2 separate regions of the Homo sapiens genome follow, and region 1 is linked to region 2. The links come from fine-mapping of genetic effects on gene expression. A gene starts in region 2. The other region holds a variant in brackets. All regions are shown on one strand. Distances are from middle to middle.

What was found. PIP is the estimated chance that this variant, and not a neighbour inherited with it, causes the effect. A credible set is the group of variants that fine-mapping cannot tell apart.
Region 1: its variant is the best candidate, but not a certain one, in a credible set for the expression of ZC3H18 in whole blood (INTERVAL, PIP 0.79).

The regions. Positions count from the first base shown.
Region 1 is chr16:88,603,417-88,607,798 of GRCh38, forward strand. The region is part of intron 6 of ZC3H18 (zinc finger CCCH-type containing 18); the gene reads left to right. Among named protein-coding and RNA genes, the nearest start is that of IL17C, 33 kb to the right of the region's middle. RefSeq lists an enhancer at 3,735-4,235. The variant C/G (reference allele first, on the strand shown) is at 1,846.
Region 2 is chr16:88,567,980-88,572,361 of GRCh38, forward strand. It overlaps ZC3H18 (zinc finger CCCH-type containing 18), which reads left to right and starts at 2,424. Exons shown (of 18, transcript NM_144604.4): 1 at 2,424-2,587. RefSeq lists enhancers at 1,605-1,714, 1,825-1,874, 2,965-3,014 and silencers at 2,115-2,444, 2,625-2,694.

The DNA of each region.
Region 1 (4,382 bases), 35 kb after region 2:
TTGAGACCAGGCTGGGCAACACGGTGAAACCCCATCTCTACTAAAATACAGAAGAAATTAGCAGGGCGTGGCAGCATGCACCTGTAATCCCAGCTACTTGGGAGGCTGAGGCAGGAGAATTGCTCGAACCTGGGAGGCGGAGGTTGCCAGTGAGCCAAGATCATGCCCCTGCACTCCAGCCTGGGCAACAGAGCGAGACTCCGTCTCTTTTTTTTTTTTTTTTTGAGACGGAGTCTGGCTCTGTCGCCCAGCGTGGAGTGCAGTGGCGCAATCTGGGCTCACTGCAAGCTCTGCCTCCTGGGTTCACGCCATTCTTCTGCCTCAGCTTACCAAGTAGCTGGGACTACAGGTGCCTGCCACCATGCCCGGCTAATTTTTTTTTTTTTTTTTGTATTTTTAGTAGAGATGGGGTTTCACCATGTTAGCCAGGTTGGTCTCGATCTCCTGACCTTGTGATCCACCGGCCTTGGCCTCCCAAAGTGCTGGGATTACAGGCGTGAGCCACCGTGCCCAGCCCCATTTCTTAAAATAATAATAATAATAATACTTTGCTAGACAGACGCACTCTGATTCGCAGCTTTAAATATTCCGTTTCTACCACCTCAAGCACTTTGTTCAGGTACCATCTGACTTATAAAACCTCACATATTGGCTGGATACAGTAGCTAGTAATGTCTATAATCCTAGTGTTTTGGGAGGTCAAGGTTGGCAGATCAGTTGAGCTCGGGAGTTGAAGACCAGTCTGGACAACATGGCAAAACCCCATCTCTACAAAATATACAAAAATTAGTTGGGCATGGTGGCACGCACCTGTAGTCCCAGCTACTCAAGAGTCTGAGGTGGGAGAATCTCTTGAGCCCGAGAGGTGGAGGTTGCAGCAAGTGAGATCGTGCCACTGCACTCCAGCCTGGGTGACTGAGTGAGACTCTTTCTCCAAAAAAAAAAAAAAAAGTTCTCACATATGTAAGACATTAAGAAATGAAATGACGGCCGGGCACAGTGGCTCACGCCTGTAATCCCAGCACTCTGGGAGGCTGAGGCAGGCAGATCACAGGGTCAGGAGATTGAGACCGTTCTGGCTAACATGGTGAAACCCCATCTCTACTAAAAATACAAAAAATTAGCCAGGCGTGGTGGCGGACACCTGTAGTCCCAGCTACTCGGGAGGCTGAGGCAGGAGAATGGCGTGAACCCAGGAGGCGGAGCTTACAGTGAGCCGAGATGGCGCCACTGCACTCCAGCCTGGGCGACAGAGCAAGACTCCATCTCAAAGAAAAAAAAAGAAATGTCATCTCTGCATAGGGCTCCTGGGGATGCTGTGCCCAGAATATTCTACAAGTCTAATAGGGACATGTGACCCAAAAGACACAAGGGCCTCTAGTGCGCACAGGACGTCACCTGTGAGAAATGCGGTCATCAGTAGTAGCCCCACCGTGAACAGAGTTTCTGATTAAATCAGAGTCAGGCTGTCAGGCCATGGCCAGGGCCATGGACTGGGCCCCTGCCAACTCCCCATACGCCCCCAGCACAGAGAGTAGTGCAGTGCCGGTGTATTAGAGGCGGAGGTGCAGGCTGCTGTTCTTTGGAGTAGGATGTCAGGCTGGGATACAGAGGAAACAGAACAGTAATTTTCAAAAAGCACACTCCCTTTCCTCAGGTAACAGGTCTACCAGATGCTGGTCCAGCACCTCCTTTGTCCCAGATGCTTAACTGAGAGAGCACAAGTGGCTTTTACCTGGGATTTGCTGGTGCCCTGTGGGGAAGCCCCCTGAGTGAGCAGGGAGGGAGGGTTGGGCTACCTGGAGAGTAAGACAGGGCCTGCTCCACATGGGTAAGCCCACAGTC[C/G]CACAGACTCAGGGCAGATGGATGTATGGGTGCCCAGGCATTGCCTGTGGCCTCTGCATGCCTTTGGGGACCTCCTCCCCTGCCTGCACTTTCAGTGGCCAGCGTTGCAACAGGAACGTGGGCAACAGGCAGGTGGGCACCAGGTCGACCATGCTGGGTTGGGGTGAGGGCAAGAGGCAGCAGGGGGCTGCGTCGCTGCTCCCTTTGTGAGCTGCCTGGGACCCTCCTTTTCACCTTGGGTCTCTGCAGCAAGCAGGGACACGTGAGCATCTGACTCCCACCCTTTGCAGAGCACAGCCTCCCTCCACCTGGGTTGAGGTCAGCACGATTTCAACCTGAATTGTGCAAATGCAAGTTGCATTTCATTGTGTAATATTGCATAACCCTTAGATTAAAAGTGAGTAGTGTTAGACATTTTAGAACTTTTTCCTAGTACTTTTTGAGATCCAGTTTCCTTGTCACTGAAATGAAATGGTTAAACAAAGTGATCTCGAAGCTCCAAACTTCTGTCTTACACGTTCTCTAATTGCTCGACTTTTCACCTGCCATGCCTCTCCCTGGGCAAGGCTGTGGGCAGAAACCACCTGCCCCTGATGGGCATGTCCAATGGTTCCCCTTAGCCAGGACCTCGGGTTCTCCTCTCCAGCGAGGAGTAGGTCCACTCCACGTGCCAGTGCTGAGTCTGACGCTGCCCAGACCTCTGGGGACGCGGGGCCTCTGGAGTGCAGATTCCACGTGTGTGCACAGGACACTGTTGGTGTTGGCTGGTTAAGTGGTGACTGCAGAACGAGGTGCGAGCCTCCCAGTTGCTGCGAGCCAGCTTTGCCCAACCTTGCTTCACCACAGAACCCTTTTCTCAAAAGGCCCATTAACATTTTGGGTTCCCTAAAACAGTTGGGGAAGAGTTTGTGCATACCATGATACTGCCCAGTAGCATTTATTTTTAAATTGAATTAAATACCTTCCAAATTCATTTCAAGAGTGTTTCAGAATTTTTCAGGATGGTGCTGAGGAGTCCGTTGTTGGCATGGTTGCAGTTCCTGGTGGCGTGTTGTGTTGACACGTTCTCTAGAACGCATGCTGCGGAGCAGATGGTTCCGAGGCAGCCACGCTGAGGAAATGCTGTGTGCCTCATTCCTATCCGCTCATCCACGACTTCCAGAAAGCCTGCAGGAAAGAGGCCTTTTCATTTTGCTTAAGTACAGTTTCCCAAAAACAAATTTGCCGGCACAGTCCTCTTGTCAGAGAACACACGCCTCACACATTTTGGGAAAGGCTTTTCTACCCTATTGGGCTTACGCAATCAGCCTCAGCCCACCGAGTAGTTGGGGGCCACAGCCATGCACCACCAGACCTGGCTGCTGATGTGTTTTTTGTAGAGACGGTGTCTCGCGTGCTGTCCAGGCTTCCTCTTCGTTTTTATGTAGCCTGATGTCATATTGCCACAGGTCTCTACAAATGTTTCCTGAGTGTTATAATTCAGTGTGATTTGAGTAGTGTGCACATTAGATTGAACGGTGTCCGACTGATGGGAACGGACTGAAGCTGTGTCCTTTGGGAGAGCCAGTTCTAGGCCATGTGGAGAGTTGAGGAGGCCTCGAGGGTGTTCGTAGCCACCCATCGCTGGAGCCACCTCAAGCCATGATGCCTCAGGTTCCCACCCAGTCTACCCGAAGCAGAGGGTTGGCTTGTGGCTGAGACATACCCTGGAGGGGCGTCCAGGGACCTCCTATTGCTAGTGTACACTTTGTTTCCTCTGCTCCACAGGAAAGGAGATGCAGAGTTGTGGGCCCCGCCAGGAGTTTAGAGCAGGCCCCCCCCAACCCTGTGCGCAGTGGGGAAGAGAGCCTGACCTTCCCAGCAGCTGGACAGTCGTCCCCTCCCTGTTCAATGAAGAATCCCCTCTGTCCCTGAGATGCCACCTCTCTGGGCGTGCCTGGGTCTGCCTCTGGACCTCCTGCCTCCTCCTTCTGGCCGCCGGTTTTCATGTGCTGCGATGGCACTGGCTTAATTATACAGGCTTTTTAGGATGTTTAATGTCTCAGAGGGCGTGTCTGGCGTGTCTTTTCATTTCCAGGGTTTTCTTGGCTGTTCTTGGGGTGCGATTTTTCATGTGAACTTGGGTGTCAGCTTGTCTGGCTCCTTAAAGAAGCTCATTGGTGTTTTTGCTGGGATTGTGTTAAATTTATCAGTCAGTGTAGGAAGGACTGACTTGTGGGCGATTCCGAGCTGCGCTCTCCCAGTGCAAGAGGCGTCTCCCCATTATTCATGCACGCTTTGTGTCAGGTTTCAAAACCCCCATTTATTCATGCACACTTTGTATCAGGCGTCTCCCCATTTATTCACACGCTTCATGTCTCTCAGGCGTCTCCCCATTTATTCACAGGCTTCATGTCACGTGTCTCCCCATTTATTCACACACGCTTCATGTCTCTCAGGCGTCTCCCCATTTATTCACACACACTTCATGTCTCTCAGGCATCTCCCCATTTATTCACACACACTTCATGTCTCTCAGGCATCTCCCCATTCACATG
Region 2 (4,382 bases):
GAGGTGGCAGGGAGCCGAGATGGCGCTACTGCACTCCAGCCTGGGCGACAGAGTGAGACTCTGTCTCAAAAAAAAAAAAAAAGAAAGAAAGAAAGAAAAGAAATGTGCCCACCCTGTCTGCTTCTGCACTTGCCTTTGTCATGCAACCTCACAGATGGTCTTCACCCGTTTATTTATATCTGTGTATACACACTGGAGGTTCATGCGTTAGCATTTTTAACAACCGCGATGTTGCAAATGTTGTACCAGATTACTATTACAACAGTACAATCATCTGCTCATCAACATCTGGGTGGTTTTCTGGTTTTTTCCTTTGTTCTTTTTTTTTCTTGAGACGGAGTCTCGCTCTGTTGCCCAGGCTGGAGTGCAGTGGCATGATCTGGGCTCACTGCAAACTCCGCCTCCCGGGTTCATGCCATTCTCCTGCCTCAGCCTCCCGAGTAGCTGGGACTACAGGCGCCCGCCACCACGCCCGGCTAATTTTTTGTATTTTTAGTAGAGACGGGGTTTCACTGTGTTAGCCAGCATGGTCTCGATCTCCTGACCTCGCGATCTGCCCGCCTCGACCTCCCAAAGTGCTGGGATTACAGGCATGAGCCACCGTGCCCGGCTCCTTTGTTCTTTTAGTTATGACTACTAACAGACCTGCTATGTCCTTGTTCATGTCTCATGCCCACGGGCAGATGACACCCCAGTCCGGTGGCCCACCTGTACCACTGGGCATCAGAATCCCCTGAGAGCTCTTCATGGACCACAGGGCCCTGGGACCTCACTCCCAGTCACTGGTGCGGCCACTCTGGGGCAGAGCCCAGGAAGGCACATTGCTAACAACCCCTAGTGATACTGAGGCTGCTTGCCCGGGTCCCACTTGGAGAACCCTGTCGAGGGTGGCACTGCTGGTCACAGGGCACTTCTTTTAACTAACATTGTTTTCCAAAGAGGCTGTGACCAACAGAGTTTACTGTTCATGAAACTCAGATCGCAGACAGGCACGTGTCTGTCACAGCCGGTGCCGGCCGCTCCTTTCCATGGACAGTAACGTCCATGCAGGCTTATGTTCATCAGCTGAGAAAAGGGCACTTGCTGGGTGGGACCTTGTCTTATCGACACATAGAGTCTGCAGAAGGTGCCAACTGGTGTCGCAGGGCTGCTCCTGACACGACCCAAAATCACCAGGGTTGAATTCACATTCCTCTTACGTAACCATAACAAGTTGCTGGGACTACAGGCACGCACCACGGTGCCCTGTTAATTTTTTTGTAGAGACAGGGGTCTTGCTTTGTTGCCCAGGCTGGTCTCAAACTCCTGGAGGAGGTGGTCCTCCCACCTTGGACTCCCAAAGTGCTAGGATTACAGGTGTGAGCCACAGTGCCAGGCCTGTGGTACCTCTTCCAAGGACACTAATCCTATCAGATCAGGACCCCACCCTTATAATCTCATTTAACCTTAATTACTTCTCTAAAGGCCCTTTCTGCAAACACAGTCACATTGGGGATTAAGGCTTCACATACAAATGTTAGGGGGACAGAACTCGGTCCATAGCATGGAGTCGCACAGGTTTTGTCCTTTTGCGATTGGCTTGCTTTACTTAGTATGTTTCCAAGGTTCACCCATGTTGTGGCATGGGTCTGAACTTCACTCTTCTTGATGACTGACTCACACTCCACTGCATGGACAGCCAGCATTTTGTCTGTTCCTCAGTTTGTGGACATCTCGCCCCCTTGTTTCCACCTTGGGGATATGGAGGAAGATGGGATGAGCGAAGCCCTGTGATCCCCAGGACCAGCCACGTCGTTGGCAAGGGTCAGCGCAGGATGAAACCGCCGGCCCCTGGTCTCCGGCCGGGCCCTCCGTCTCTAGAGCAGCTCGCACCGCTGCAGCCCCTGGACGCCCCGGGCTGTGGACGCGCCCGTGGGACACCGCGCTGAGCAGGACACGCGACAGGTCCCCTCACTGGCGCTGCTCGCGTTGAACCGCGCGGGGAGCCAGGCAGCCCACGGGAAAGGTAAGAATTGTTAGGCTTTTAATCTAAAGTCGATACCTCAAAAAATAATTCCGGAGGTAAGCATTTAATATCAACATTCAATAAAGCAGGAAGTATCAGCCCGACGAAGACCGCCTTAAGTTTTCCACTTTGATGAACTCGATCATCCCCGGGGATGAAGAACCCGCCGGCCCAGCCGGAGCCCCGTCACGTGACCCGGCGGCCGCGGGGAGCTCTGTGCGCAGGCGCGGATCCGCACGCCCGCCGCCTGAGAAGCGAACTCCCCGTGGCGCCTGCGCTGTAGCGGGGGTTCGGCTGGCTCGCGCGGGTCCGGGCGCGCGCTGCGGGGGCGGAACCGCGCGGAGGCCGGAAGGAAGCTGGAGGGGGCGGGGCGAGGGAGGGAAGCCCGCCGGCCGTAGGACTACCGTCGCGGCCTGATGACGTCGCACAATGGCCGGCCCCCGCGGGTAGTGGAGCCCGTTTGTTCCGCCCGTGTCGAGCCTGGAGCCAGAACCTGTGAAGAGCGGAAGGGCCAAGGGACGTCTTCTCCACGCCGCTCCGACTCCAGGGGAGCCGTGGCCTCCTCTCCGCCCTAGCGCTGAGGTTAGCTGGGGCCGGGAGGGCGGCGGGAGGCCGGGCCGGCGGCGGCGGGAGGAGGAGGCCGCCGAGGCGGCGGCGGCGGCCGCGGGAGGGAGGCCCGGGAGCCCGGCGCGCCTCCGGCCGTGCGGACCCACCGGCCGAAGCGTGGCCCTCGGGCCCAGGGAAGGGGACCTTGAGACAGGCACCACCCCGAGTTCCGTCCGTAAGCCGGCCCCGCGGTCCTGGGGCGCCCTGGGCGCCCGAGCTCCTCGCGCGCTGCCTCCGCGCCCCGCGGCAGAGTTTATTTTCCTGAAGCTGTCATTTCTCTTCCGGGCCACTCGCGTGGCACATGTGTGCCGCCGGCTAAGGGGCGGTGAGAGGCGCCCAGATTCACCTCCAGAGTAGGTCATCCCGGGCTGCTGCTGGGCTCTTCGGAGAACTTTGAGCTCTTTATGAACCTCCTGGAACTTGCTCCGCAGCTTCAAAGTGTGCACAGGTTGGGCGCAGTGATTGCCCCAAGACGCGCGCCGGTCTCTTAGGAGTATGTAACTTCCTTGCCCCTTGGATTAGGAGATCAGAGGTGCTGGGTCCTTTATATAGACCAACTGCAGCTATAATGCTGGAAGAACTGAAACTTAACAGCCTTACTCCTGCCAAACATTTTTCCTGAATACTTTATGACAACTGAGTTTGCCGGGTAGAGTGGCCGTTTTAAATGAGCTTTGTTCGAACAACGCTAACTCATTTGCAAGAGTAGGTCATTCTTCAGACCCATTTGGGAAAATGGAAGAAGAGAGTGTTTGGCATCTGAAGTACCGTTTGGGGTGTAGCAAGGTGCTCATCATGTCTCCTGTTAGACTCACCTCCAGCCTGTTGTCTGTAGAGTAGTCCTTTCCCGTTCAGTAGTTGGGATTATCCGGGTGAGGTTTGACCTCGGCTGAATCCCGCTTCCCAGCTTTGGGAGGAGAGTCTTTTCCTGATAATTTTACTATCTAAGGGCAGTATGGAGCCCAGCCAGCCCTGGAACCAGTCAAATGTGTCCCAAAGCCGGAAACTCCTCTCCCGTTGTAGGTGGGACATGCTGAAATATTGTAAGAAAGCTTTGTGGAGTCACTCCAGAAAGCAAACAGGTAAGTTAACCTATGGCCTACATCGTGTTTACAGAGATTTGTATTTTGTCACAGCTACAGAGCATCTCAAGGTGAGTACCTCTTTATCAAGGAGTTTAGTGGTCACGCTTGGTCACTTTGCACGTGGGGTCTGTCACCAACCTTGATAACGTTCATTTAGATATTTTAAGTCCATGAGGTTATGAGTCAGAATTTTAACCAGATGTACCAGAACTTAGGCATTCAAATAGGTACTGCTCTGTTGAAAGTAATTGTCCCAAAATGTGCTTGTATTTCATCGGTGCTTCTTTGCCAGAATCTCTTTAGAACTCCTGTTGTGGTAGTAAAAATGTAGTCATATGGGAAAATCAGTCTTATTCAATAGTCACCCTCCAGGTTTGACCAAAAGTTTACTTACGTGGTTGGTAGCTCACCTTATCAGGTGAGACTCTGACTTGCAGCACTTTATCAAAGTGACTAGCTTGAGAGGAGGAAGATTTGCCACCACTAAGAATACCAGAAGACTTCTTTAGGCTTGGAAGGTCATTCGCAATGAGAAGGTCCCCAAACGCTCTGCATTTCAGCAGTGCCGTTGGAGTCTGTGCATCCTCCCAGAGGGGCTGCTCGGAAGGGAGGTAGCACCTGCTCTTTATTATTACTATTATTTTTTGAGACGGAGTCTCACTCTGTTGCCCAGGCTGGAGTGCAGT